2 linked regions of the Homo sapiens genome follow. The protein of the gene in region 2 purifies or fractionates together with the protein of the main gene of each other region. This does not show direct contact. Each region holds a gene or a part of one and is shown on either strand. Other genes may lie near its edges.

Region 1 (15,129 bases), on a different chromosome or scaffold from region 2:
GCAGGATTTGGTTCCCATTAGAGAAGGCACAGCTTTGCCAGGCTGGCAAATTGGCAAACTCAAATCTAGGGCCTGGAGGGTAATCTGGGAACTTGAAGATGAGATTTGGAAACCGTCTGCTGGGTTCTAGGAGCTCGTCTGGGAATGTTTGGGGTGGGGTCAGCATTCGCCTTTGTCTTCCCCAACACTTCAGCTTCAACAAAGAAACTCCAGAGAAAACACCAGCAACGGCAGACTCAGCTGTCAGACGAAAAAGCTCCTTCTCCCGCCTCGTGCTCCCGCCCTCCCGCTGCCCACTCGCCCTCCCACCCGCTCACCACCCTCCTCCCGCCCCCGCTCACCACCCTCCCGCCCACTCGCCACCCTCAGTGCCACCCAGCCCATTCTCAGTTCTGAGAGCCATTCTGGGCTGCGGCTCGCAGGCTAGGAGTGACGCGGTGGGGTCCCATCTGTGCCGAGCGAGCGGCAGGTGCGGGGGACAGAATGGCGGAGGCCTGAAGGCCCTCGGGCTGCAGGGAAGGCTCTGGGCGGGAGCGCCACGGCCACTGTCCCCACGGTGGGCACTGTCCCCGCTGCTCCTCTGCCTGCCTCCAGCCTCCACCAGCTCCTCCCCTCTGAGGCCGCACGGGTGGCCGACATGCTCGGACCAGGACTTGCTTCCAGGAGAGGTTTCCAATTCAGCGCTTGGCCAACCGTGAAGGCCCTGGTCCTCCAGGGGCCGCAAGTCACTCACCTTTTCTCCTTTCAGTCCAAAGGCACCGGGGTCTCCCTTGGGGCCAGGGGGTCCTTGAATGCCCTGGAGAAAAGAGGGCAGCATGACACCACCGGCAGAGGCCACCGCGGCCTCTGGCAGCAGCCCCAGACCGCCCAGACAGAAGTCAAAACGGTCCACACGAGGTGCTGCTGACAGCGCTAGTTTTAAAGTATCAGTGAGAGGAAGTGACTTACGTCAAACCCGGGCGAGCCCTTGCAGCCTGGCAGGCCTGGGTACCCCATCTCCCCCTGGAAAGAGGAAGAAAACTAGAAAATCTGACGGCCAAGTGGGTAAACTGAGGCCAATCAACTGTCAGACTTGGTGCCCTCCATGCCCTCCACACCCTCCCTGGAAAGCCCTGCCTAGCAGACACCCCCCTGGGGTCACCTTCACACCGTCCACCCCACTCCTCCCTGTCCCTCCTGCCGGGATCACCTCACCCCATCCCTCCCCGTCCCTCCCCGTCCTTCCCCTGGTCACCTTCACACTGTCCACCCCATCCCTCCCCGGGTCACCTTCACGCCGTCCACTCCGTCCCTCCCCATCTCGCCCCATTCCTCCTCGTCCCTCCCCGTCCATCCTATCTCCCCCCAGTCACCTTCACGCCGTCCACCCCGTCGATGCCACGCTTGCCCTTCTCTCCCTGTGAGGCGGGAAAACGAAGGCAGGAGTCAGATGCAGGTCAGACATGCTGCCGTGGGGGCAGAACTCCCCCCTCCCAGCAGCCCACGCTCACCTTGTAGCCCTTGGGTCCCCTGGAGCCCTGCGGAGACAGGAAGCGGGTGTGAGGGGGTATTTGGGGTGGGGAGGGCAGGGCAAGCCTGGCTTAGGCCCACGCGAGGCAGGGGCTTGGGTGCCCCCAACCCGAGGGGACAACATCACTGCTGAGAATCATGGGGACTGACAGTGATGGGGAGGGGCCGCTCTGCAGAGGGTAACCGCCCGGGGGACCCCCGGCTCCGCAGAGGGTAACCGCCCGGGGGACCCCCGGCTCCGCAGAGGGTAACCGCCCGGGGGACCCCTGCTCTGGGGTGGGGTGAAAGTGACACAGGCGCCTTTGCTGGGTGCCTGGGTGGCTGTCCTTGTCCTTCCAGATGGAGGGGACGGCGAGGGGCGGTGGAGCGGGTCTGCAGGACACGTGGTCTCCTGTCAGGGACACTGTCCTCATCCCCGGGGACACCCTCGTCCAGGATGGCACATCTGCGCCTGGAGAGACCAGCTCCGAGGTCGAGCCTCACTCACCTTCTCCCCACGGCTCCCTTTTTCTCCCTACACACCCAGCGGAAGAAGAGGAAGAGGAAGGCTTGTTAGTGCTGTGCAAGGCTGAGGGCACCACCGGGCTCGGGCCAGGAAAGGGGGGGCACGTACCTTCATTCCCTGGTACCCAACAGGTCCGAGGTCCCCGGGTCTTCCCTGGAACACAGGAGGAGATGGTGAGACACCCCCGGAGGAGCAGGGGCAGGGGCCAGTCCCACCCAGCCCCACACCCCTCCCTCCAGCCCAGGCCTGGTCAGGCCGAGAGAGGGGCCCTGCTGCACGGGGCCCATGGTGCCGAGGCCCTCCAAGGTGGAGCTGGGGGAGGGAAGTCTATGGATAGGATTTGGGCCAAGGAGCCACGGCAGGGGCCCCGGACGGTGCCGGCCTGAGCACCCTGGGCCACCTCCCCACCCAGCCCCTCCCTGGCAGGGGGGCTTACGGGCTGCCTGGGGGGCTGTGTGGAAGGATGGCTGGGCTGTGGCCCCTCCAGGTCTGCTCCCACCCACAAGGAACAGGCAGTGTGACTTTGGCACTCAGAACCCAGCCACTCTTCCGGAAGTTTCCGAGGCCTAGTCGTTCCCCGCCTCCAGCTTCTTAGGGCCCCCACCCCACAGTCAGGCACTCACAGGATCTCCGGCTTCTCCCTTCTCTCCTGGGAGCCCCGGCTTGCCTCGTTCTCCCTGGAACACAAAACAGGTCAAGGTTGGGGCAGCCCCGTTTCTTTCTAAAAAGCTGGCTCACGAAACAGGTTTTTAAAAAGACGCTTCATCCAGCCTTCAGGGATCAAGGGCTTTAAAGCACCTTCCCCATCACATCTGGTCAGCCTGGGTCTGGGAGCTCCAACCCGCACGCCAGCTCCCCCCACTCCCTGCCTTCGTTCCTGTCTGCTCGGCTTTGCTGACCCCCAGGCACAGGTGGGAGGGACGTGCAGCACAGAAGCCCCCCAGGGTCACAGCTCGACCCCCAGGAAATGGCCATGGGACTCGGGCCCACAGCTGCTGGGTTTGATGGTTTTTAGGAGAAGCCAGAAATCTGAGGTCCATGAGCAGCCTCATGGCAAGTTTTAATTATCAGCAGCTAATTCTAACGTTTAAGGTCATCCTATGTGAGCCACACAGAAGCAGGGGACCCACATTCTCACCCTCCTACCTCCAGAAAGGTCCTTCTGAACAGAGTGCGGCTGAGGGCAGGGCGGACAGAGACACCCTCAGAAGCCCCCAGCGCCCCCGGGACAGTCCACACCCTGCACGGCCGGAGCCTGCCTGCTGGACCCCGCCGTCCCTTCCATCTGGACCCCGACATCCCCTCCATCTGGACCCCGCCGTCCCCTCCATCTGGAGCCCCGACGTCCCCTCCATCTGGACCCCGCCGTCCCCTCCATCTGGACCACGCCGTCCCCTCCATCTGGACTCCCGCCGTCCCCTCCATCTGGACCCCGCCGTCCCCTCCATCTGGACCCCGCCGTCCCCTCCATCTGGACCCCGCCGTCCCCTCCATCTGGACCCCGCCGTCCCCTCCATCTGGACCCCGCCGTCCCCTCCATCTGGACCCCCGCCGTCCCCTCCATCTGGAGCCCCGACGTCCCCTCCATCTGGACCCCGCCGTCCCCTCCATCTGGACCACGCCGTCCCCTCCATCTGGACTCCCGCCGTCCCCTCCATCTGGAGCCCCGACGTCCCCTCCATCTGGACCCCGCCGTCCCCTCCATCTGGACCCCGCCGTCCCCTCCATCTGGACCCCGCCGTCCCCTCCATCTGGACTCCCGCCGTCCCCTCCATCTGGAGCCCCGACGTCCCCTCCATCTGGACCCCGCCGTCCCCTCCATCTGGACCCCGCCGTCCCCTCCATCTGGACCCCGCCATCCCCTCCATCTGGACCCCGCCGTCCCCTCCATCTGGACCCCGCCGTCCCCTCCATCTGGACCCCGCCATCCCCTCCATCTGGACTCCCGCCGTCCCCTCCATCTGGACCCCCGCCGTCCCCTCCATCTGGACCCCCGCCGTCCCCTCTGGATCCTCATGGTGGACTTGGGTGCCCAGGAGGCTTTGGTCCTGCCACCCCCACTCCCAGGCCCCACAACACATGGGAGGAGCAGGAGTCACCACTCACCTCAAAGCCGGGGTCGCCCCGGAGCCCCGGAGGTCCTCTTGCAGGCTGCAAGGCAGAGGGGACGGTCAGCCAGGACCCCAGACTCAGGTTCCCAGGGTGCAGGGCGCGGGGTCAGGGGTCGGGGGGCACACTCACCTGGCATTCGAAGGAGCAGCACTGTGGGGGGAAAGCATGGAGACGAGTCAGTGGGAAAGCCACGGACATACGGCTGGGACACAGGGTGACATGCGACCCAGGCACATGGGCAGACGGACACACGGATGGACGCACAGGCGGACACATGTCCCAGGCACATGGGCAGACACACAGGTGGACACGCAGGGGGACACACATCCCGGGCACACGGGCAGACACGCAGGGGACATGTGTCCCGGGCACATGGGCGGATATGCATAGGGACATGCGTCCTGAACACACAGGTGGACGTGTGGGTGGACGTGTGCAGACTCACGGCTGGGGGTGGTGGGGAGGGCTCTTACCACTTGCTCCACGTTATTTTTCTGGAAAGAGAAATGGAAACGCAGAATTACTTTCCACCTGCGGCCGCCGCGGGCCTCCCCGTCTCCTGGGCAGGGGCCTCACGATCATGTCCACGATGGTGTCGATGGTCTGGCTGATGGCCTCCTCTGCGTCGCGGCTCTGGCCCCAGTCAGCCGCCGTGAAGTTGCGCCGGTACGTGTGGTCCGTGGCGATGATGCTCAGACGCGGCTCCTGGGGGCAGTGTTCAGGGTGGGCTGAGCAGGGCTGGGACCCCTGACGGCCGGGGCCGCTTCCCACAGGGCCAGAGGGGAGGCTGGGCTGGGGCGCTCCAGGCTCCTCAGCAGGAGGGGCTGGCCTCTCAGGGGCAAGGGTGGCCGGCTGGAGAACCCACACCCTCCCGAGGACCAAAAGACGGTCCCAGCTGCCGGGGGCCTTGCAGCCGCCACTCCCTGTGGTTGGGGGCATCTGCCGGGGGGGGCCGGTGCCTACCAGGTGGTCGGGTGTGATGGCCACCGAGAAGACTTTGACGCCCAGGTGCTTGGCCTCGTTCACAGCATCCTCCAGCCCCCCACAGGGTTCCTTGTAGCCCTCCAGGGGGTGCCCGTCGGTCACCACAATCAGGTACTTATTCTCCTTCAGGTGGGAGCCCCTGGACAGGAGAGGGCAGCGTGAGACCTCGAGACTAGGTGGGGGAACTGGAGGGAGACCCAAGCCTGTCCGGGAGGTGCTGGTCCCTGTCTCACCGGGAGGAGCCGCCTCTCTTTGCTGATCCTGGCTATACGGTGGGGGTTACTGAAAAGAACCTCACCATGGGAAATAACGCCTGTGGGTCTCATTTCTCTAAACTGCTTTGGAAAATCCACGCCCTCCCAGGAGAGGCACCCATGACCCCAAAGGAGGCTCGGTTCCTGGGGTGCCCTGGGGCGCAAAGCCCCTGACCAGTGAGTGGAGGCTGAGGGTGGCAGGGAGCGTGCCCCTCCGAGATGCCCGCCGCGTCTACCCACAAGCTGCCTCAACTCAAGGCTGCTCGGTCACCGTGGCTCTTGCAGGAAATGGGTGTGATGAGCAAACAACAGGGCGATCCCTGAATGCCCCAAATCCAACCCCCCGAAAGGGAAAGTGGGAGCAGCAGGAAGGAGGGCAGTATCGCAGGGCAGTCGGGCAGCCTGCTGGGGACGCTGAGCATCTCGGCCAGAAGGGCGAGCTCATTTAGGGGAGTCGTGTCTGTCTGTGGCTTCCACAGGGGGCCGCACTCTGACGTGTGTGGCCACATCCCCCATGCACCCCCTGCAGACAGCGGACGACTTCCTGAGACTCCAAGTCCCCCAGGTCCCAGCTTGGCACCAACTCTGGAGGGAAGTGGGCACAACCATTGGAAAGGGAATGTCCGGCCCACACCGGCCATGTGGCCCTCTGAGACCGACCTCGGGGAGAGGCTCTCCCCAAACCCCCCGCACCGCCTGGCTGGACAGGGCAGCCTCGGGTACCCCCACTGGGATCCTGAGGCCTCGTGAAGGGCTGGGTGTGGGGAGGCCACGTTCCCCTCTGGACACTCCGGGGCTTGCGGCCCCTGCGTCCCCACAGCTGGACACTGGGATGAGAGGAAACCCCTCAGTCCAGAAAAACCCCGAGAAAGCGCATGCTTCGGGTCTGATGAGTCTGTTTCAGTGATCCTAGCCCTGCTTGGTGTTGATGCTGTGGGGAAAACCACCCCGTCTCTCTCAGTCTCTCAGTCTCTCTGCCTCTGTTTCCGGTCTCTCTGTCTCTGTCTGTCCCTGTCTCTCTGTCTGTCTCTGTCTGTGCTTCTCTCTCTGTCTCTCTGCCTCTGTCTTTGTCTCTCTCTCTCTGCTTCTATCTCTCTGTCTCCCTCTCTGTCTCTATCTCTCTGTCTCTGTCCCTCTGTCTCTATCTCTCTATTTCTGTCTCTGTCTCTGTCCCTGTCTCTGCTTCTCTCTGTCTCTCTGCCTCTGTCTGTCTCTGCTTCTCTCTGTCTCTCTGTCTCTGTATGTTTCTGTCTCTGTTTCGCTGTCTCTGTCTCTGTCTCTCTGTCTGCCTGTCTCTGCCCCTCTGTCTCTGTCTCTCTGTCTCTGTTTCTGTCTCTGTCTCTGTCTGTCTCTGACTGTCTTTGTTTCTCTGTCTCTGCTTCTCTCTGCCTCTGTCTTTTTCTATCTGTCTCTGTCTCTCTCTGTTTCCCTCTGTCTCTCTCTCTTTCTGTCTCTGTCCCTGTTTCTGTCTCTCTGTCTCTGTTTGTCTGTCTCTGTCTCTGTCTCTCTGTCTCTCTCTGCCTGTCTCTGTCCCTCTGTCTCTGTTTCTGTCTCTGTCTCTCTCTGTCTCTGTCTGCCTGTCTCTGTTCCCGTCTCTGTCTCTCTGTGTCTCTCTCTGTGTCTCTGTCTCTGTCTCTGTTTGTCTCTGTCTGCCTGTCTTGGTCCCTCTGTCACTCTTTGTCTCTGTCTCTCTCTGTCTCTGTCTCTATCTCTCTCTGTCTCTGTCTCTCTCTGTGTCTGTTTCTCCCTGTTTCTGTTTCTCTCTGTCTCTGTCTGTCTCCGTCTCTTTCCTGCCCACAAAGTGGGTCAGGGAGGCCGTGCAGCCTCCAAGAGAACAGGGAGGCTGCAGCTGAAGCCGCACAGGGACCCCAGGCCAACCCCAGCCCAGGCTGGGTACCACGCGTGAGAACTGGCGTGGGCAGGAGGCTGGGGGCCACTCACCCCACGAGGAGCTGCTCCAGCCCCTTCTTGATAGCGCAGTCGGTGTAGGTGCCCTTCCCAAAGTACTTGACCGCGTCCACGCTGCTTTTGAGTGCGTCGCGGCCGCCAGGCATGCGCGTGAGGCCTTGGATGATCTCCACCTCGTCACTGTAGTGCAGCGCGCCTGCGTTCCACACCAGGTTTCGGTCACAGCGGTAGTACCTGCCAGGAACAGGCACGGCGGGCGTGAGGCGGGCGGCCCCTGGCGCCATCGCTACCCGTCCCAGGGCGCGACGTCACCCAGATGGACAGGCTGCCCCACCCTGGCCGTGGCTGACACACAGCTGGACTTGCCCTGTGGCCCTGAGGCCGGCCCTCCTGGAAGGCTGTGCAGGCGGGTGTGGCCAGCAAGCGACCTGCGCCCCGATCCCTCAGGCCCTCAGACCAGGAGCCCTGAGTGTGTGGCCCTGCTGGGGTGGGGTCCTTGGGCCTGCAGTGGGGCAGCATGACAGTGGGGGAAGGAGGCACCCCGGGGATCTGAGCAGCCCCCTCGCTGCCCTCTGAGCACCTGAGCCTGAGGCTCTCAGGGGTCTGCTCTGCCCCAGCCTGGGGTGGGCCCACCTCTGCCCCACCCACCCTCCCATCCATTCAGCAGAGTGACCACGGCGCCTGCAGGAATCCAGTGGCAGCGACATGGGGATGACTCCGCCCCATTTCACAGGTGGGAAACTGAGTCATGGGGAGACTGAGTAAAGGCAACAAGGGCGACTCGGGGGACGCTGGGCCACGCGGCCGCCCCTCCCCGGTGCCATCCACAGCCAGACCCCCCCCCAAACACTGCCGCACGGGCCTGGCCATGTCCACTAAGCTCAGGGTTCCTGGTACCAATGGCTCCTGCTGGGCACGGTGTGGGCTGGAAGGTCCACCCTGCTGTTACCGGCAGCCTCTGACTGTGCCCCTTCTGGTGGCGGGAGGCTCCGGCCCAGCGGCCAGTCAGCAGGGTCAAGGAGGACGGGGGTTCCTACGCCGGCTAAGCTGTGTCCCCACTGCCAGGACCCGTCTCAGTGGGGGAGCCCCGTTCTACATGCCCCCCCCTCAGCGGCCCTGTGCACCCACAGGACCGACTCCCCTCTCCCCCCGGTCTGTCCTCAGCCACACGCACAGATGGAGGAACGTGGAGCAGAGGGTGCCGTGTCCCAAGCCCAGAACCAAGCCTGGGGGCCCTGGGGCTGCAGAGCGACACCCCTCCTGGCTCCCGAGTCGGGGACCTTCAGAACGTGGGATCCAGGACCCAGGTAGAGGCTCTCACTGCCCACGGAACAAACCAGGGTCCAGGTGGTTAGTGAGGGGCTCCCGCGCACCAGGCAGGACTGCGTGTCTGGGCCAGTGCGCTGAGCCCTCTCGGTCAGCCTGCGGGAGCCTCTCTTCCCTACATCTCAGCCTCACTGTCACCTCGGCCCTGCTGAACAGGTGCCACCCCCGCGAGCAGGGTCTCAAACCAGCTCACTCTGGAAGGCGCTGGGAGAGGCTCAGACCAGCTCACTCTGGAGGGCGCCGGAAAGGGCCCCGGCCTCACTCTGGAGGGCGCCGGGAGGGGCCCCGGTCAGGGCAACGCTCGCCCAACCTTAGGAGGTTGAGGCCGTCGCACCCGTGTTCCCCTGGGCCCCCACCCCTCCCTCCAAGAGGCCCAGAAGCACAGGAGGAAGGTCACGGGGCGTCCCTCCTACCTGTCCCTCAGGTTGTCGATGAAGCGCTTGGTGAAGGACTTGACTTTGTCCACGAGGGCCCCGTAGGGCTTCAGCCTCAGGGCCACGCTCTCAGAGGTGTCCAGCACAAAGAACAGGTCCACGGGGCAGTCTGGCCGAAGATGGAGGAGAGGGGCCTTCAAGCTCTCGCCCCATTCCCCGAGTCTCTGCTGGGCCTGCCCTCCCGGCCAGCCCAGCGCCTGCAGCACAGAGCCCCGGGCCCGGAGAGGCTCTCCCGGGAAAAGGCAGCAGGACGTCCCTCGGTGGGGACGGTGGGGAGGGGGTGGAGTGAGAGACCCCAAACCGCTCCTGTGCCTCGAGGGGAGTCAGAAACCTTCACAACCTCCCCCGAAGGGCAGGGCGTCCCCGGCACGGGACCGGACAAGTGAGACCTCACGGGAAGGTTTCTCGCTGGATTCAGAACCAGCAGCGCACGACTTCTTCTAGAACGGGGGTCGGGGGGGCCGTGCGTCTGGACTCACTGCCAGGTGAGGGGTCAAACGGATTCACGGGGCGCCGAGACAGCCCCGCACCAGCTCCCCCTCGCCAGGGAGCCCCTCCCGAGCTGCCTGCGGTCCGGCCCCGCTGAGAATGCTGAATGCTGAGCCTCTAGGGGCCCCGGCCAAGGCCCGGTGGGGCAGAGCTGGGCGCTGCAGCCGCCCCGAGCGGGGAGTGGGGTTCAGGGGCTCCAGGCCCCCAGTCTGCAGTTCCACGCGTGGGAGGGGACCCCGCGCATCTGGCCCTGGCCGGCAGCAAAGAGCGGGGGGTCTGGAGCCTGCACCCCAAGCCACCACTCACCCTGGAAGGCCACGGCCCTCGGGGTCTCCGGCTCATCCTGCGCGGCTGTCCAGCAGGCCTGCAGCAGCAGGGGCAGCAGAGCACGGGCCGCCCTCATGTCTGGGGCCTGCGGTCACCACACAGCGCGGCCAGGGCAGAGTGGGCCGCCGCCGCCGCCCAGAGACCGAGGCTGCCTTCTGCTCCCAGCCAGAGTGAGAGCGGAGGGCAAGGAGGGGAGGGGCGGGGCGAGAGGGGCGGGAGGGGAGGGGAGGGGCGGGAGGGGAGGGGAGGGGCGGGGCGGGAGGAGAGGGGAGGGGAGGGGAGGGGCGGGAGGAGAGGGGAGGGGCGGGAGGGGAGGGGCGGGGCGGGAGGGGAGGGGCGGGGCGGGGCGGGGAGGAGCGGCCCATGAGTCACCACCTCCTTGCTGGGGTCTCTCCCTCCAGAACCGGCAGCAGCTCCGAGCCCAGGGAGAAGGCGGTTTCCCTGGCTGGCTCGCCGCGGCCTGCAGTTCAGTTCCCGTGTCAGGGAGGAGGAAACTGCAGCAGCTGAATCAAACGTCTGAAAACCAGCGTGTCACCCAGGGAGAGTTCCTTGAAACATCTTTCGGTAGTTTCCAATCCAGACGTCTCCATGCGGGACGCACGGGCAGGCTCACTCGCCTCTTCCCACCAACCGCCTCCTGCAGAGGACCTCGCCGTGAGCTGAATTGTTGCTTTATCAGATCTCCGCGTTCTTTTTTCACGTCAATATTTCTTCACAGTATAGTCGGATACGTATTTGCCAAAGATATTTCAGTTTGTACCGTGGGAAGACAAAGTTGCTCACAATATAGTTGTTATATATGCTGTGTGTGGAGACAGAGAGACAGAGACAGAGAGACAGAGAGAGACAGTGAGAGAGAGACAGAGAGACAGAGACAGAGAGACAGACAGAGACACAGACAGAGGAGAGACAGAGACAGAGAGAGAGACAGAGACAGAGAGAGACAGAGAGACAGAAAGACAGAGAGAGACACAGAGAGACAGAGGAGAGACAGAGACAGAGAGACAGAGACAGAGAGACACAGAGAGACAGAGAGACAGAGAGACAGAGACAGAGAGAGAGACAGTGAGAGACAGAGACAGAGAGACACAGAGACAGAGAGACAGAGAGAGACAGAGACAGTGAGAGAGAGACAGAAAGACAGAGACAGAGAGACAGACACAGAGAGACAGAGGAGAGACAGAGACAGACAGAGAGAGACAGAGACAGAGAGAGACAGAGAGACAGACAGAGAGAGACAGAGAGAGAGACAGAGACAGAGACACAGAGAGAGGAGAGACAGAGAGAGACAAAGACAGAGACAGAGAGACAGAGACAGAGAGAGACAGAGAGGAGAGACAGACAGAGACGGAGAGACAGAGACAGAGAGACAGAGACAGAGAGACAGAAAGAGAGACAGAGAGAGGAGAGAGGGGCTGTCCCTGATATCACCTGGGGGTGGGCTCCAGATGTGGCCAGATGCATCCCTGGCCCACAGAAGGTCCCAGAAGAGCTTTCCCAAAGCTGGAGCTGCTGAGACTTGCCTAACACCAGCCTAAATGTCTTATAATTTTAAAACGTACACAAATTGTTCATACCAAAAACCATGTTAAAGAAACATTTGAAAAAACCTTTAAAATTGATACTTAATTCCACAACTCCACAGTGACTGTTTTTGGATTGCCTTCAATATTTTCCCCACACCTACGTTACAGAAGTTGTAAAGTACTTCTCCTTCTTTTCCTCCTCCTCCTCCTCCTCCTCCTCCTTATTATTATTATTATTATCTAAGGGGCTCACTCTGTCATCCAGGCTGGAACGTAGTGGCCTCATCACAGCTCACTGCAGCCTCAGTCTCCTGGGTTCAGGTGATCCCTCCACCTCAGCCTCCCGAGTAGCTGGGATCACAGGCATGTGCCACCATACCCAGCTAATTTTGTATGTTTTGTAGAGATGGGGGTCTCACGATGTTGCCCAGGCTGGTCTCGAACTCCTGGACTCAAGTGGTCCTCCTGCCTCGGCCTCCGAAAGTGCTGGGATTACAGGCATGAGCCACCGTGCCTGGCCTTGTACACTTACTGTACAGTCAATTTACCTGCCACTGATGTCATCCACACTGTGGCTGTGGGTGCTGAGGTTTGGTGCTGCCTGCTTGGAGCTGTGGCACCAGCCTCTGGGCTCCTGACTCAAGCACAGGGGGCTTCAGGACCTCCGTGTTCTCTTGGCCTCTCCCAGTCTGAGCTGTTTTATCTGCAAGGAGTGCTTGCAGATTTGGGAAAGGAAATAGGAACACGTTGTGTAAGCAAACACCAAGAATGCAGCATTCCCTGCAGTGAGGGTCCCACCACAGGCACACAGCAGCAGGTGGCTGACACACGGTCTGTAAGATGGAAGAGATGCGGACGCCCAGGGACAGGTTCACGGGGCCCAGTGGCCAATGGCCTGTTTTGCCTTGCAGAGGTGGTTTCATAAGTCAGTTCACAGTATACCACCGGCTCCGCCAGCAGGTCCGCGGGGTGGGTGCGGCGGGAGCTGTGGAGATGCGTGGGAATAACGCCGACACCCCAGGCTGCAGCATCCTGAGCTCCAGGGCCGCGGTCCGACTCCTCCCCCGGTCCCAGGCTTCATCCTGGCCTGGGCTTCTCCGAGGCAGGGCTGGGGCCGCACTGTGTGAGGGGCTCAGGCTCAGGGCGGTCCCAGGCCTGGGTGGGGCCCAGAGGTGCCTCTGCTTCACAGGAAATCTGCAATGATGACTCAGAGTAAACTTGACTCTTTCTCTTATGAAGAAGATACATGTTCATCATAGCGAATTTTTTAAAATCATAAAGCAACATCTAGTTTCACTACCGAGTGGGATTCAGAGCTAATACTTCAGTGTGTTTCTGCTTAAGCGTTTTTCTTTTTTTTAGATGGAGTCTTGCTCTGTCGCCCAGGCTGGAGTGCAGTGGCACAATCTCGGCTCACTGCAACCTCCGCCTCCCGGGTTCAAGTGATTCTCCTGCCTCAGCCTCCCAAGTAGCTGGAACTACAGGCACATGCCACCATGCCCAGCTAATTTTTGTATTTTTAGTAGAGGTAGGGTTTCGCCATGTTAGCCAGGCTGGTCTCAAACTCCTGACCTCAGGTGATCCGCCCTCCTCGGCCTCCCAAAGTGCTGGGATGACAGGCGTGAGCCACCGTGGCCACCGTGCTATAAGTGTGTTTATAGACGTGCTGTCGCCTGCTCTGTGCACCGTACCGTGAGCGTGTTCATAGACGTGCAGTCGCCTGCTTTGTGTTCCTTCATGCACTTTCATCAGGGATCTTTTCTGATTGTAAGTGATGCTTATGTCTCAGGGAGAACATGAAAACCACATAAAGCATGAAAATAAAACATCCTGAATCCCAGTCCTGGCTGAGCTTACTGTTGTCATGGGGCTGATTTCCACAACCTGCCCCACCCACAGCGGGTGAGCTCCCTCCGCTCCCCCCCTCCTCTCTCCTGTCCCCTTTGCTCCCTCTTTTCTCTTCTCTCCCCCTCCCTCCTCTCACGCTCAGTCCTCTCCCTCTCCCTCCTCTCATGCTCACTCCTCTCCCTCTTCCCTCCTCTCCCCCTCCTTCCTCTCACGCTCACTCCTGTCCCCCTCCCTCCTCTCTCCTGTCCCCTCCTCTCCGCCTCCCTCCTCTCATGCTCACTCCTCTCCCCCTCCCTCCTCTCACGCTCACTCCTGTCTCCCTCCCTCCTCTCTCCTGTCCCCTCTCCCCCTCCCTCCTCTCACGCTCACTTCTCTCCCCCTCCCTCCTCTCATGCTCACTCCTCTCCCCCTTCCCTCCTCTCCCCCTCCCTCCTCTCCCCCTTTTCCCCTCTCTCCCCCTCCCTCCTCTCACACTCACTCCTCTCCCCCTTCTTCCTCTCTCCTGTCCCCTCCTCTCCCCCTTCCCTCCTTTCCCCCTCCCTCCTCTCACACTTGCTCCCCTCCCCCTTTCCTCATCTCCCCCTCCCTCTTCTCCCCTGTCCTCATTCTCCTCTCCGGCTCCCTACTCTCCCCTTCACCGTCTCCCTCCTCTCTCCCATCCCCTATTCTCCTCCTCCCTCCTCTCTCCCCCCCTCTCCCCCTCCCTCCTCTCTCCCCCTCCCTCCTCTCTCCCCCTCCCTCCTCTCTCCCCCTCCCTCCTCTCTCCCCCTCCCTCCTCTCTCCTGAAGTTACCCAGGTGTCTCTGGCACATGTCCACCCCCAAGCCCCCATCCAGGCCATTCCTGCAGGAGATCCTTCTCCCATGGGGCTCCACCCCCCAACCCCAGCCCAGTCGGCTTCCAGGATCCTAGGAAGCACAGAGCCAGGAAACCACTGCCCTGGGGGGCCTCCCAGAGAGCTGCACTGCAGGGTCTGGCTGGGAAGGGCCCTGCAACCCCGCCTGTGTGTGGGGGGAGGTAAATGCACTTCCAGAGAAAGGGAAGAAGGGGGCGAGCCACATCCCCTCCCTGGCGACCTGGCTGTCCTTTCTCAGGCCTGCCGGCCCTTCTGTGGATGGGGACTCTGGGCCCAGTCTGGGATCCCAGAAGCAGCTGTGGGGAGCAGGACTTACCCCACTGTGCCAGTCGTCCACAGCCCTGGGGGGATCTGAGTCTCCAGGTGTGGGAAGGGAGAGGGTGGGAGAAGGGAGAGAGTGGGAGGAGGGAGAGAATGGGAGGAGGGGAGAGGGGGTGGGAGGAGGGAGAGGGTGGGAGGAGGGAGAGGAAGAAGGATGGAGGAGAGGGCCTTGAATGTGCAGTGTCCCTGGCAGGGCCTCTCTGACTCCTGCGGGTGGACCCGAGCCTCCTCTTCCAGCAGGACCTGGCTAAGAGGGGATGAGGATGGAGCATGAGGTGGGCTTGGTGGAGGAAGCTGTCCCGGGAGGCAGGGGAGGGCAGGGCTGTTTCTGGAACCTGCCTGCCCTCCACCCCCACCCCCACCCCCACCCCCATCAGGACCCTGCGTTCAGGGAGAGGAGCCCCCCAGTCCACCTTGAGGAGCCCTGGTGCCTCCAAACGTCAGCGCGGGGAAAAGGGGAATTATCCACCGCTGTCCTGTGTTAGTGGTTTTCTTAAACCCATAAAAGTGGTGGAACGGGAAGGAAAGACCATCCCAGGAAACTGCCTTTGTCCACAGGGAAAGTTGCAGAGGAGACTCAGTGCTGCTGGTGGCTGGTGGGAGCCCCAGGGCTGCTGGCCCAGGCCCCGCTTCTGTCCTTCCCCTTTTGGACCAACCGTACCCCCTCCCCTGTTGTGGGAAGTCAGGGACCCCAAATGGAGGGACCGGCTGAAGCCACGGCAGAAGAACGT
Region 2 (15,183 bases):
GCCACTGCACTCCAGCCTGGGTGACAGAGTGAGACTCCACCTCAAAAAAAAAAAAAAAAAGAAAGAAATTCTTAAAGAAAAGAATTTTCCACCCAGATTTTCATATCCATCCCAACTAAGCTTCAGAAGCAGAGGAGAAATAAAATCCTTTCCAGACAAGCAAATGCTAAGGGATTTCATCACCACCAGGCCTGCCTTGCAGGAGCTCCTGAATGAAGCACCAAATACGGAAAGGAAAAACCAGTACCAGCCACTGCAAAAATACACCAAAATATAAAGACTAGTGACACTATGAAGAAACTGCATCAACTAGTGTGTAAAATAATCAGCTAGCATTGTGATGACAGGATCAAATTCACACAACGTTCAGCCAAGAGCACAGATGGTTTTTTAAATGAAATCAGTAAAAGAATGCTTTGTCTAAATATCACAATTTTTTTTTTTTTTGAGATGGAGTCTTGCTCTGTCACCCAGGCTGGAGTGCAGTGGCATGATCTCGGCTCACTGCAAACTCCGCCTCCCGGGTTCACGCCATTCTCCTGGCTCAGCCTCCCTAGTAGCTGGGACTACAGGTGCCCGCCACTACGCCCGGCTAATTTTTTTTTTTTTTTTTTGTATTTCTAGTAGAGACGATGGGGTTTCACCATGTTAGCCAGGATGGTCTTGATCTCCTGACCTCGTGATCCGCCCGTCTCTGCCTCCCAAGTGCTGGGATTACAGGCATGAGCCACCGTGCCTGGCCTAAATATCACAATTTTTATCTTTAAAATGATATCTTCTTACTTTAGGATTTTACAGCTGATTTGCTCAGCTGTGCTTAGCCTCAACGTGTGGAATCAACTGAAGTGAAACATGATGAAAGTTTACATTGATTTAGAGGTTCACTGTTTGCTTATTAGCAAAGGAGATTTGTACCCAGGTAGACATACGCCGTGGCATTCACTGTTCATTGAAAGGACAGATCAATTGCTGACAAGTTTTCTCTTTAGGTTCCTTACGTTGTGTTTAAGATAGTTAAAATGAAATAGGTAAAATAATCACCAATCTATCTAAAGAAGAGAGTGGAGATTTTTAAAATGCAACCTCTGATTTCCAGTTTCCACATTGTGCTCAGACTTCATTGCTTCACTCACAAGCAATTCCTATCTTCATCTTTATATATGTAGTAACGTTTCCTGTGGTGTTTTTTTTTCTCTTTAATGAGAAGGATTTCAGGTGTTTAGGCATGATGTGGCTTATTCAAGAATAAAAGGAAAAAGAGAAAGAGGAAAGAGGAATCCATGGATTAAAAGATTTAAAAGACATCGACTAATCATAATGTGTGCATCTTATTTCAATCCTGATTTAATCAACTTTAGAAAAGGCTTTTTGACATAAAACAGTTGAAAATTTGAACACTGACTGAATATATAATGATATTAAAGAACAATTGTTTTAAGAAAGATAGAGATAATGTGTGACCAGCGCTTGATAAAGAAGAACCCAACCCAAAATCTATTATTAGAGAAGGCTGCGGAGTATGAGAGAAACAGACTGTGCTGGGAATCCTAACCCTGGCGTGGCCATCAGTGCGCTGTGGCCTTGGCTGAATCCCTTTCCCTGCCCAGACCTTGGTTTTCCCATCTATGAAGTGAAGGAGGGGACCCAAGGGGCCTGTTTAACTCTGGCTTTCTTTTGCTTTGTCCTCCTGTCATGGGCGGCCATGGAGCCTTTAACTCAGGGCCTGTATCAACACCACCATGCATCCACGAGAGAGTAAAATGGGCAGAAGAGTGCTTGATGGGCACAAGCCCAGAGCTGTTGGCTTCTGCAGAACCCAGAACAGGAAGGGTCACCTCCCTGAGGCACCTGGCCTGGAGAATCAACTGCCTGATCCCAGGTATGCCAGGTCAAAGCCAAGGGGAAGGAGAGAAACTGCTGGAGGACTTTCTCTCACAAACCGTGGGCATGTGTTATCTGCCTACCAGGATGCTTTCACCGTGTTCTGATGCTTGAGAACTTCTGGTGAGTTCCCTGGGCCTCCATCCTGGTCTGGTTACCTTCTCAGGACTCCAGGTGAGTTGGGCTGCATGTGACAGACCCATGTGTGTGCAAATGAACAATGTCACTGGATTGCTACATCACTGACCCTTCAATTCCTTGTTGCTGGCCTCTGCCCACCTGCCTTTCAGATACCGTCATTATGAAAGTATCATCCTTAACACAGAACCTCACACACTATAAGTGCTCCATGTAAAGCAGTGAAGGGGTGGAGAGGGGAACCTCCCTCTAGGACCATCATAGATGCTTAACATTCTCTTGAAGCCTGACAAGCTTTCTCCAGAAGGCTGAACTATAATACTCACCATCTGCTACCAACACCAACCAGTTTAACACATGAACTAAATAACCAAGAAAGAAAAACACTTCCCTTTAAGTGGGTACTGCAGAGCAGTAGCTAGATCCATACGTTAGTGTCAAATCTGGATTCAAATCCTGCACTGCCTCCTATCAGCTCTGTGACTTTGGGCGTTTCTTAACTTCTCTGCAGCTTATTCAGTAAGAATGCTGTGAAGATGAGATTATTTCCTTCATACAGTGTTTGGCATTGTGCCTCACCCACTGGGAGGGCTCAATGTGTGTCCACAACTGCTTTTCTTTTTCTTTTCTTTTTTTTTTTTTTTTGAGACTGTGTTACTCTCACACCCAGGCTGTAGTGCAATCATAGCTCACTGCAGCCTCAAACTCCCAGGCTCAAGGGATCCTCTTCCCTCAACCTCAGGAGTAGCTGCGACTACAGGCCACCACACCTGGCTAATTTTTGTAATTTTTTGTAGAGATGGGGCCTCGCCATGTTGCGCAGGCTGGTCTTGAATTCCTGGGCTCAAGTGATCCACCCACCTTGGCCTCCCAAAGTGTTGGGATTACAGATGTGAGCTGCGCCTGGACCTTTAGGCATTTTTTAACCTCTCTGTGGTTTATTTTGTTTTGTTTTGTTTTTGAGACGAGTCTCGCTCTGTCTCCCAGGCTGGAGTGCAGTGGCGTGATCTTGGCTCACTGCAAGCTCCGTCTCCTGGGTTCACGCCATTCTCCTGCCTCAGCCTCAGGAGTAGCTGGGACTACAGGCGCCCGCTACCACGCCCGGCTAATTTTTTGTATTTTTAGTAGAGACGGGGTTTCACCGTGTTAGCCAGGATGGTCTCGATCTCCTGACCTCATGATCCACTCGCCTCGGCCTCCCAAAGTGCTGGGACTACAGGCGTGAGCCACTGCACCCCGCCACCTCTCTGCAGTTTATTTAGTAAGAGTGCTGTGAAGATGAGATGACTGCCTGCATAGAGTGTTCCGCATCATGCCTCACACACTGGGATGGCTCAATGTATGCTCACAATTTGCTTTTTTTTCTTTTTCTTTCTTTCTTTTTTTTTTTTTCTTTGAGATGGAGTTTCTATCTGTCACCCAGGCTGGAGTGCAGTGGCATGATCTGGGCCCACTGCAACCTCTGCCTCCCAGGTTTAAGTGATTCTCCTGCCTCAGCCTCCCGAGTAGCTGGGATTACAGGCACACACCACCACACCCAGCTAATTTTTGTATTTTCAGTAGGGACGGGGTTTTGCCATGTTGGTCAGGCTGGTCTCGAACTCCTGAGCTCAAGTGATCCACCCGCCTCAGCCTCCCAAAGTGCTGGATTACAGGACTGAGCCACAGCGCCCAGACCACTATTGCTTTTTGGGGGGAAGCTTCTATTGCAGCACCGTAAGGGGGCTCCACCATCATATTTTCCTACCCCTCAATTGAACCTTCTCTCTTTTCCCTATTTCTTATAAAAATTACCTTTCAGTGTGTCGTTTTCTCAGGGACATGCTAACCTGTGATGTTGCAGCGTCTGATGATGCAACTTTGACGGGCTTTATAATCGTGGATTTCAGGCAAGCTGGGAGGCCTTCCAAAGGCCCTTGAGAACCACAACTTTTTTTTTTTTTTTTTTTGAAACCAAGTCTCACTCTTGTTGCCCAGGCTGGAGTGCAGCGGTGCAATCTCAGCTCACTGCAACCTTCACCTCCTGGGCTCAAGCAAATCTCCTGCCTCAGCCTCCTGAGTAGCTGGGACTACAGGCGTGTGCCACCAGGCCCAGCTAATTTTTTGTATTCTTAGGAGAGATGGGTTTTGCCATGTTGGCCAGGCTGATCTCGAACTCCTGACCTCATGTGATCCACCGGCCTGGGTCTCCCCAAGTGTTGGGATTACAGGCGTGAGCCACTGTGCCCAGCCTGAGAACCACAACTCTTTGGTGACATCTGCAATCCTCCATATCAGCCCTGCAGATAACAGACAGGGAACTATGGCTGCTGTCTCACTGGAGTCAGGATATCCTTTTAAAAAGAAATGGGAGTGCCAGGCGCCATGGCTCACGCCTGTAATCCCAGCACTTCGGGAGGCCGAGGTGGGTGGATCACCTGAGGTCGGGAGTTCGAGACCAGCCTGACCTACATGGAGAAACCCCGTCTCTACTAAAAACACAAAATTAACCAGGCGTGGTGGTGCATGCCTGTAATCCCAGCTACTCAGGAGGCTGAGGCAGGAGAATCGCTTGAACCCGGGGGCGAAAGTTGCGGTGAGCCGAGATCGCGCCAATGCACTCCAGCCTAGGGAACAAGAGCGAAACTCCATCTCAAAAAAAAAAAAAAAAAAAAATCTGGGAGCACAGAGAGCTCTCCTGGTGTTGGGGGACCAACAAGGTGGAATCAAGAGCCACAGACCAGGGCCCAAGTCCCAGCGGTAACTGAGTATTATGGGGGTATTAACGCCCACCGCCCACCGCCCAGGATAGGGAGCACAGAGCAGAGAATTCTAAGCATTCAAGCCCTGAAACGCCCACTTCCTCTACCTGAGTCGCTGCTGTCCTCTAGTGTCCACTGGATAAATTGCACAGCACGCTGGCCTGAAGAAGGGGAAGTGGGAGATGCTTTTCCCCCACTTCTGAATCTATCTGATGCTGTGGTTCTCAACCATGCCCACCCATAACTTCCTTTTCATAAAATATATTTTGTATAATTACAGTAATTTTTAAACATTTTAGGCAGATGTATTGAGGTATTGACATATAATAAACTGTGCATATATAGAGATTACAATTTGGTAACATCTGACCCTTGGTATACACCTGAAATCATTATCACAATCAAGATAGTGAAGATATCCGTTCCCACAAAAAGTTTCCTTGTTGCCCTTGGTGATCCTGCTTCCTGCTCTTTCTACCTCCCCACCCCCAAGCAACTACTGATCTGCTCTCTTTTTTTCTTTTCTTTCGTTTTTATTTTATTTATTTATTTTTTTAAGATGGAGTCTTGCTCTGTCTCCCAGGCTGGAGTGCAGTGGCATGATCTTGGCTCACTGCAACCTCCACCTCCTGGGTTCGAGTGATTTTTGTGCCTCAGCCTCCCGAGTAGCTGGGATTACAGGTGCGTGCCAACAGGCCTGGCTAATTTTTATATTTTTAGTAGAGACAGGGTTTCACTTTGTTGACCAGGCTGGTCTCGAACTCCTCACCTCAAGTGATTCGCCCACCTCAGCCTCCTAAAGTGCTGGGATTACAGGTGTGAGCCACTGTACCCTGCCCTGATCTGCTTTCTATCATCATAGGTTAGTTTATATTTTCTAGTGCTTTCTAGAAATGGAATCATACAGTGTGTACTCTTTTTTGTCAAGCTTCTTTCACTCAGTATAATTATTTTGAGTTTTATCCATGTTGTTTTGTGTGGCAATAGTTCATTACTTTTTAAAATTTTAGTTGTAGTTTTTGTGGGTACATAGTAAGTGTATATATTTATGGGGCACCTGAGATGTTTTGATACAGGCATACAATACATAATAAAGACATCATGGAGAATGGGGTATCCATCCCCTCAAGCATTTACCCTTTGTGTTAAATATTTCATGGCAAAGTTATCTTGGGGTAAACACTGCAGCTGCAGGTGCCACCAGTGAGTATTCTCTGGGCAAACAGAAAAAGGGTTAAACAAATCACATTACACATTACTCTAAAATTTGTATCTATGTCTAGCCCTCAGACAAACCATGATGCCTGTTCTTTACATTGGTGGTCACTGAATGCTAGAATTATGAATTTAAAATTAATAAAAATTAATCAAGTTTTCAAAAATCAAAATAAAATGGATTTATTTCAATCATTTTGACGTAAAAATTTGACTAATTCTAATTTGTATGTTGCCTTTTGGTTTAATGGATACTTTTCAATAGTTGAAAAGAAAACTAACTTTTGGGAAAATATTCCTGATAAAATTAAATTTTTTACATAAACATAATTTTGATGAAAATATTAAGATATTTGTACTTTGAATATGATTGTTTTAATCCTTACATGTATTTTCAAATCTTGATAATAATAACATAATTACCGATTTTGCTGAAAGATAAGAAAAATACATTTCATGGAATAGTTTCAGTAATTTATAAATTCCACATCTTTATTACTCATCCCAATATTGTCAGCCCATCAACAGAGCACCCAGACATGCGCAATAAACATGAAATTTCATGATCTTTGACATTTTGCTAACTTTCTGTCATATACAAATCATAGCTTCATATATATTTTAAAATTTTATCCTTTTAAAGGCATATTTGTCAGAGGATGAGGATAGGACATACTTTAACATACATAACATAACATAATCGGCCGGGCGTGGTGGCTCACGCCTGTAATCCTAGCACTTTGGGAGGCCGAGGCAGGCAGATTGCCTGAGCTCAGGAGCTCAAGACCAGCCTGGGCAACAAGGTGAAACCCTGTCGCTACTAAAATACAAAAAAAAATTAGCCAGGCATGGTGGCATGCACCTGTAGTCCCAGCTACTCGGGAGGCTGAGGCAGAATTGCTTGAACCCAGGAGGCAGAGGTTGCAGTGAGCCGAGATCACTCCAGAGTGAGACTCCATCTCTAAAAAAAAAAAAATACAAATCATAGCTTCATACACATTTTAAAATTTTATCCTTTTAAAGGAATATTTGTCAGAGTATGAGGGTAGGACATACTTTAACAGTCTGTTAGTTTAATTTATAACTTGCAAATATTGAGACAGATGGCCTATGGTATCCATCTGTCCTCTTGCCCTGAGCTGACTTGACTCATGGGTCCCAGCTTGGGTTTTCCAGTTGTTTGAATGGGTAGGAATCTACCCATGTTTGCCACAGCTAGGGGGCTGGAGGTGGAGGGTCCCTCTGGACCCCCTTTGAATGACCATAACTTCAGAGCCTATCAAAGAGACTAAATATTCTGCAGCCCAGCAGGAGGTCCCAACCCAGCCTCCAGAGGGAGTGGAAACTTCTGCAAACCAACAGGATTAAACTGAGGCTCATGTGACTTCCTTGGGAGACCATCCTCTCTCAGATCTTAAGTTTCAGAGATCAAATTTCCAAGCATGTGGTCCTTGGCTATGGAAACCTTTCCTCCTGCCCAGGACTCTCACTCTACAGAGACGAGTTCATTCAGGTCATCTGAAGCCCATGTAGATTTTTGGCCACAAATGGTTTCTCATAAAGTGGTGCCCCCAGCATGTTCAGCCTCCCCTCTGCCCCTGCAGGCCTTCTATCCCAGGGTGCCATGCACTGCTGCCCTGCTGGGAAGAGAAGTCTGGAGGGGCACGGGGCAGCACTGCCCACTCAGAAGCCCCTTGTCCTATTTTTCTGTCAGATCCTGCCTCCCTGTTTCAGAGGGAAGAGTGGGCCGTCAGTAACAAGATGTTTTCTCCCTTGCCTCTTTTTTGCTACAGTTGGTAGAAATTTCTCCCAGACTTCCTCGGTGACTAATGATGTTGGGATGTTGTGGCCTTCACAGGGAGGGGACAGGGTGTCAGGTCACCATATCACAGATGGTTGACCCCATGCCGACTACAACTGGCTCTTTTGGCTGCAAGTGACAGAAACCCAACTCAAACTTGTTCTGTGAGTGGGGACATTTATTGAATCTCAGAATTGAAGGGAGGGGAAGGGTGTGTTTGGGTCCCAGAAAGGGTGGACCCTGGGGCTGGAATCCCGTCCAGACTCCGCTCCCTCTTCACGGAGGCTTAGCACCTTAGATGGGCTATGTCCTCTGGCCCTGCACACATGGGCTTCCTGTTGGAAGCTGAGCAGCTCCACCAGCTTCCGTTTACAAATATAGTGACTGGCACACAAGCATTCCTATGCTTATGGGGGGTGGTGGGGGGCAGGACCCCAGGACTGGCAGCCCCCACTAAAACCCCATGAGGGAAGGAGTCCCCCCAAAGGTGGTGCTGTTCCCAAAAATGAAGGAAACAGCCAGTGCTCTCCACCCTATCCCACCCGGCCATTTTCCTCACAGATGTCACCTGTCCTCCCAGGCCCAGCTGCTACTTCTGCCTGATGCTTGGCCAATTTGCCTGGTTAAAACCAGTGTATTTCCAGGAGATGGATGACGTCACAGAACTGGGGTTCCAGAAGCCTTCTTTAGAACATGGAGAGCTGTTAGTTGGGCAGGGCTGAAGTGTATGTGGTGAGGAAGAAGAGGCTCCTACTGTAGACAGCCTTGTTCTACAGATCCTCCCAGAAATCTCTGGGCCAGGTGGAACCCAGGGTCAGAGAGGGATGGGAGAGAGGTAAGCTGTGGAAGGGGTGGGAACATACCTTCTGGAGCCACTGTCTTCCTTGAGGGGACCCTGAGAGGGGGCTTAATGGGCAGGGATGGAGCTTCCTGCTTCCCGAGGCTCAGTGACATCTATCTCTGAGGGACCCTCCTGAGTCAGTGTGGAGTAGGTTGTTTGTCTGAAATTCTAATTTAACAGGGCATCTTGTAAATTTTATTTGCCAAATCTGTCAGCTCTGGGGGTAGAATGATGGGAGAAGCAAAAGAATGGCCCGAAGCTCAGGCTGGTGTGGAACGAGTCTCAGATAGAACAAGAGACAGAAGCAGCCTCATTGTCTGAAGTAAATACCAAGGTTCGTGGTCTCACGTTTAAGGAGATCGAGGTCGCAGACACACACGCACACAGAGTGAGTTTGGAGCAGGAGTTTAATAGGCAAAAGGAAAGAACAGCTCTCTGTCACAGACAGAGGTCCCAGGCAGGTTGCCAGGTGGTAGTAAAAACGTCAGGGTTTTATAAATGGGCTAGAGAGGGGCATTCATGAGGAGGGGATGTCTTATCCTCCTAGAGCCCGATGGTTCAGTTGGGACCAGGTGTGCTATCTGTATAGAGCAGAGTTTTTAATAGGCTCTCACCCCATTCCCGACCACATCAACTTTTAGTCTGTGTCTCTTTGTCTTGCTTATCTGGGAGCGAGAGTTTCTGTGTCTATTCCCACACATCTTGCAGCTGTAGGCATACCCATCGATTCTGCTTTTAGCTTCCCTATCTTAGCGCGCCTAAAGAGAAAGGAATGTAGTTATTAAGGCCCACTGTTTTACTGGGGCCCATTGTATAAGTGTGAAGTTTGGTGATTACCCAGGAGACTTCCCCCATCCTTCTGTGCCTGAGCTCTTATCTGTTTTTACCCTTTGCTCTTTCAGGCTGGTTGTTGTTAGAAGAAAAGTGATTTCCTTGAACTGCGTGAGGTTAGAAAGGGAGCTATCTTTGAGCTGCTTTGCGTTAAAAGGAAAGTTTTCTGCTGGGGATTCACTTTACCCTAACTGTCTACCTAAGTAGTTTCTTTCTGCCTCCTATAACAAGACCAGAGAAGAAACAAGCCCACCAGGGTAGCCATCTTGTCCAAGCAGAAGCCGCCTGACACTTGAAGGCGGCGGGTGGAAGAACTCAGGCTTCTGCCCCCTCAGCAGCATATACCTAAGTTAAGGGGAAAAACACACCTTCCCTCAGTGACAGAAATAGTCCCAGGTTTTCAGATTTATTGGAAGTATTATTTCTTTTTAGTGTAGAGATGAGGTCTTGCTGTTTCCCAGGTTGGTCTCAAACTCCTGGCCTAAGCAATTCTCTCACCTCAGCCTCCCAAAGTGCTCGGATTACAGGCATGAGCCACCATGCCTGGCCAGTCTTTCAGTTTTCATGGCATTGGCCATTTTGAAGAATACAGGCCAGTTATCTTACAGATTTTCAGTGAGTTTGGCTTTGATGTTTCCTCAGGATTAGACATAGCCTATGCATCCCTGGACGGAATATTGCATAAGCGATGTGTCCTCCTTGGGAATCACATCTGGAGGCACACAATGTCCCTCTGTCCGTCTTTGGAGATGTTAATTTTGATTGCAAGGTCAAAATACTGTCTGGTTATCCACTGTATACTGTTTTGTTTTTTCTTTCTGTGCAACTAATAAGCAATCTGTGGGGAGACCCTATAAGATCATGATATATCCAGTTCTTCAGCATTCTTCCCACCACCTCAGATTTAGCATGCAATGATGATTTGTTCTCAAACCAATCTATGATAGTTGCAAAATGGTGATTATTTTTCAACTCCATGACTTCCTCCACACTTATCGGTTGGCCTTTTATTGTCAGGAAGAGGTCTCTGCTTCAGCTCCACACAATGTATCTTTTTGTCAATTTATTATTATTATGGGCTCATGGATTCCTATTGCATTTAATGTATAATCTGTTACTGTCATTTATTCTGATGGTCTAATTGTCCCAGATTGGGTTGGAAACCATTATGCAATGGTTTCTTAGATATGACACCAAAAGCACACCCAACAAAAGGACAAATAGATAACTTGCACATCATCAAAATTAAAAACTTTGGGGCTTCAAAGAACACCACCAAGAAAGTGAAAGGCAACCCACAGAATGGGAAAAAAATATCTGCCATATATCTGATGCTGGTCTAGTATACAGAATATATAAAGAACTCTTCCCACTCAGTAATAAAAAGACAACTCAATTTGAAACTGGCCAAAGGTTCTGAATAGACATTTTCCCAAAGATATACAGTGGCCAATAAGCACATAAAAAGATGATCAACATCCGTAGCCATCTGGGAAACGCAAATTAAAACAACAGGGTGATACCAGTTCATACCCACTAGGATACCTTTTGTCAAGAAGACAGATAATAACAAGTGTTGGTGAGGATGTAGAGAAATTGGAACCTTCATACACTGCTGATGGGAATGCAAAATGGTGCAGCCACTTTGGAAATCTGGTAGGCCTCATAAGCTTAAGCCTAGGGTTACCCCATGACCCAGCAACTCTACTCCAAAGAAATAAAAACATATATCCACACAAAAACTAGTATGTTAATGTTCATAGTAGGATTATTCATGATAGCCAAAAATAGAAACAACCCAAATGTCCATCAACTAATGAATGGATAGACGAAGTATGGTGTATTCATACAATGAAATATTATTCAACCATAGAAAGGAATGAAGTATCATTACATGCTCCAACCTGAATGAAACTTCAAAACATTATGCTAAGTGAAAGAAGCCAGATACAAAATGCCATATTTTCTGTAACTCCGTGTGTATGAAATGTCCAGAAGAGGCAAATCCATAGAGACAGAAAGTAGATTAGTGGTTGCCAGGGGTTGGGAGGTGGGGGATGGGCAGTGACTGCTAAATGGGTGCAGGGTTTTGTTTTGGATTGATGAAAATATTCTAAAATCAAGTGAGGTAGTAGTTGTACAACTCTGCAAACATACTGAAAACCACTGAATTGTACACTTTAACTGAATTAATTGTATGATACATGAATTATATCTCAATAATGCTGTTACCAAAAAACATCGTTTCAGATCTGGCCAGTCGGTGCCCCTTTGAGCTAGCTCTTGTGTCCATTTGACATGCCCCAATACATATTTCGAGCACTTTTTAAATTTCTTGTACAGCAAGATAATCCAGACATCTCATAACCCTTTCCTGCTCCAGCCTGGGAATCAGCCATATTTCCTAGAGTCCTGGTTCCCTTTTGTGTGGAATGTGAACCAAGATCTGGGCATTATTTCATTTAATCATCAAAACAACCCTTTTAGGTAGGTATTAGCATATCTTCATTTTACAAATGAGGCCCAGAAAGGTTGAGTATGTTGCCCAAAGTCACATAGCACCCCAGGATTTGAAAGCAGGCAGTGTGAATCTAGGGCCCTTGCTATTCAACACACACACACGCGCACACACACATACACAATGTGAAAGTGAAGGTTACGTCTACAGCCAGCCCACCAAGAATTGTACCAGGCAGGGTATGCCCTTGGGAAAAATCATGTGTCATGTGTCTGGGGGAGTGGGGTTGTGGGGAGATTAGCACCCAGTGTCCTGGCCCTCTTTCTAAAAGCACATGCTCAGATACACACACACATATGCTGGTGAAGATAGTCTTCAGTAATCTCCTTTGCCAACCTCACTCCCCATCCCAATACCCAAATACTACCCATAGCTGGGTGCCCATATAAGAGGACCTATGGATGAAATGAGATTGGCCAGGTGTGGTGGCTCACACCTGTAATCCCAGCACTTTGGGAGGCTGAGATGGGAGGATCACTTGAGGCCAGGAGTTCAAGACCAGCCTGGTCAACAGAGTGAGACCCCCATCTCTAAAAAATAAAAAAATAAAAAACAAACAACAACAAAGAAAGATTGGCCTTGGTTTTTGAATGTTGAAGCTCAGAAGTGGGTATATGGAGGTTCATGATACTATTCTCTTTCCTTTTTTAAAGGTTTAATTTTCCATGATAAATAAAAATCTATAAAATAATAAACAAGAGAAAAGAGATTGGAAACAGCCAGGTTGGAGCAGTGAGTGAGTAAGGAAACCTGGCTGCCCTCTCCAGATTCCCCAGGCTCTCAGAGAAGATCAGCAGAAAGTCTGCAAGACCCTAAGAACCATCAGCCCTCAGCTGCACCTCCTCCCCTCCAAGGATGACAAAGGCGCTACTCATCTATTTGGTCAGCAGCTTTCTTGCCCTAAATCAGGCCAGCCTCATCAGTCGCTGTGACTTGGCCCAGGTGCTGCAGCTGGAGGACTTGGATGGGTTTGAGGGTTACTCCCTGAGTGACTGTGAGTACCATCCGCCCCTCCCCAGCCATTTCTCCTCTGCTAGTCATGTCCTATATGGCCAGCTTCTTTCTCTCCTGTTCATCTTTCAAAGCCAAGTTCAAAAAGCAGCCCCCTTCAAAAAAGCCTTTCCCAACACGCTGTATTCACTCAAGTTATTGTCTGAGCACTTATTATGTACCAACAACTGTTTTAGGCACTGGGGCTGTAGAGATAAACAAATTCCCTTCCCTTATAATGTTCACATCCTAGGGGAAGAGAGCAGCAACAAACACACTCATAACGTACTGCCTGGTGGTGACCAATGCTATGAAGAAGAATAAAGCAGGGGGAGCAATGGTGAATTCTTTAGATGGGGAAGTCAGGGAAGGCCTCTCTGAGGAGATGACATTAAGCAGCACTGAATTAAATGAAGGACCTGGTCACCCAAATGTCTGGGGGAAGAACACTCTAGGCAGAGGGGACAGCTAGTACAAAGGCTTTCTCCTCCTGCATGGAAGGGATATCTCCCTTTTGCCCAGGAGTTGTGTGCACCTGTCTTGCAACACTTTTGTCCTTTAATCTTGCTTTGTGGGTTTTTTAGGTACCTTTTTTTTTTTTTTTTAGACAGAGTCTCGCTCTGTCACCCAGGCTGGAGTGTAGTGGCGCGATCTTGGCTCACTGCAAGCTCTGCCTCCTGGGTTCACACCATTCTCCTGCCTCAGCCTCCCCAGTAGCTGGAACTACAGGCACCCACCACCATGCCCAGCTAATTTTTGTATTTTTAGTAGAGACAGGGTTTCACCGTGTTAGCCAGGATGGTCTCGATCTCCTGACCTCGTGATCCGCCCGCCTCAGCCTCCCAAAGTGCTGGGATTACAGGCATAAGCCACCGCGCCCGGCATACATATTTTTAAGCTTGTACATATTTTTAAGCTTGTACATACAAGCTTATTACAAGGCCTGTATTACAAGCTTAGGTACATATTTTTAAGCTTGTAATACAGGCCCCTTGAAGGCAGCATCTGTGTTTGACCCAACTGAAATGTCCCTCACTAGGCTTTGCACAGTTCCTGGCACACAGTAGGTGCTCAGTAAGTGCAAAACACATGAATAGATGGACAGATGAGTAATTGTACTTATGAGTGGGTGGATGGACCACAGGATAAGAGGGCAAGTCAATGGAGATTTCAAGCCCTCTAGTCCTATCTTGCCTCCCAGGCCTTGTTCCTTTTGTCTGAAACCTTGCCTCCCTTTCTCCTCCATCTCCCTTCTCACTCAGCTTGGTCCCCTCTAAATCCTGACCTTCTTCTCCCTACTCTAAGGGCTGTGCCTGGCTTTTGTGGAAAGCAAGTTCAACATATCAAAGATAAATGAAAATGCAGACGGAAGCTTTGACTATGGCCTCTTCCAGATCAACAGCCACTACTGGTGCAACGATTATAAGAGTTACTCGGAAAACCTTTGCCACGTAGACTGTCAAGGTCTGGCCAGGGCCCCAGGGTGGGAGAGATGAGAGCAGCAACCAGGCTCTGCTCACAGAACTTCTCTTCCCACCCACAGCCTGGGAATGGCCCCAGAAATATGGTTCAAAAAATCAGGGAATCCCTTTACTGAGCAGAGGGCTGGAGTAGTGTCCCTAATGCCCATCCAGTTAGGAGATTCTATAGAGTCCCTGAGTAGGATCCAGGAAGGCTCCGTATACAGCTGGTAGTAGTAGAACAGTTGCAGCAGCCAATGTTTATTGAGAGAATATTATACACTAAGTGCTTTACATACTTGGCTTATTTCATCCAACTTTCATGCAGTAGAAACCATTTATGATCCCTACTTTACAAAACAGCAAACTGAGGCTCAAAAAGAGAACCAGCATTGAATGCCAGACTAATGGCCTCACAGGCTCTTAACCATTCCGGAGTACCCTCTTTAGCTAATGATCTGACCAAAGACCAAGTGCAAACTCCCTACCTCAGAGCTGATCCAGGAGGCTCGACAGGGCCCATGACTCTGCCCCTCACCTCTGCCTTCGCACACTGACCGATGTCCCTCGGCTCCTCGCCTGAAGACCCCCGCTCACTAGGCGGGACATACCTCTGTGGTGTTTTGGCATTTCCTCTCCCTGGAAACCTCCCACAAACTTTGAGTGAACCACTATCTACCCTGGTTAGGAAGAATAGTAGTGAACAGGCCCAAATCTCAGGCCTCTTGCCCCTTCTGCCCACACCCCCTTTCACCTCGAACCTCTAG

The links.
Region 1: the proteins of LYZL6 (region 2) and COL6A1 purify together in Homo sapiens (co-immunoprecipitation; 2 studies listed by BioGRID and IntAct, with this or other methods). This does not show direct contact.

Annotation. Positions count from the first base shown.
Region 1 is NC_000021.9:45,976,646-45,991,774, reverse strand, and holds the start of COL6A1 (collagen alpha-1(VI) chain precursor), read right to left. Parts: upstream 10,006-15,129; 5' UTR 9,925-10,005; coding exon 9,828-9,924; intron 9,142-9,827; coding exon 9,012-9,141; intron 7,507-9,011; coding exon 7,306-7,506; intron 5,250-7,305; coding exon 5,090-5,249; intron 4,832-5,089; coding exon 4,703-4,831; intron 4,621-4,702; coding exon 4,600-4,620; intron 4,277-4,599; coding exon 4,256-4,276; intron 4,166-4,255; coding exon 4,121-4,165; intron 2,692-4,120; coding exon 2,638-2,691; intron 2,168-2,637; coding exon 2,123-2,167; intron 2,024-2,122; coding exon 1,997-2,023; intron 1,518-1,996; coding exon 1,491-1,517; intron 1,398-1,490; coding exon 1,353-1,397; intron 1,003-1,352; coding exon 949-1,002; intron 797-948; coding exon 734-796; intron 1-733. UniProt on the Homo sapiens protein: Collagen VI acts as a cell-binding protein.
Region 2 is NC_000017.11:35,936,995-35,952,177, reverse strand, and holds the start of LYZL6 (lysozyme-like protein 6 precursor), read left to right. Parts: upstream 1-8,464; 5' UTR 8,465-8,611; intron 8,612-12,619; 5' UTR 12,620-12,821; coding exon 12,822-12,960; intron 12,961-14,261; coding exon 14,262-14,420; intron 14,421-15,183. UniProt on the Homo sapiens protein: May be involved sperm-egg plasma membrane adhesion and fusion during fertilization. Exhibits bacteriolytic activity in vitro against Micrococcus luteus and Staphylococcus aureus.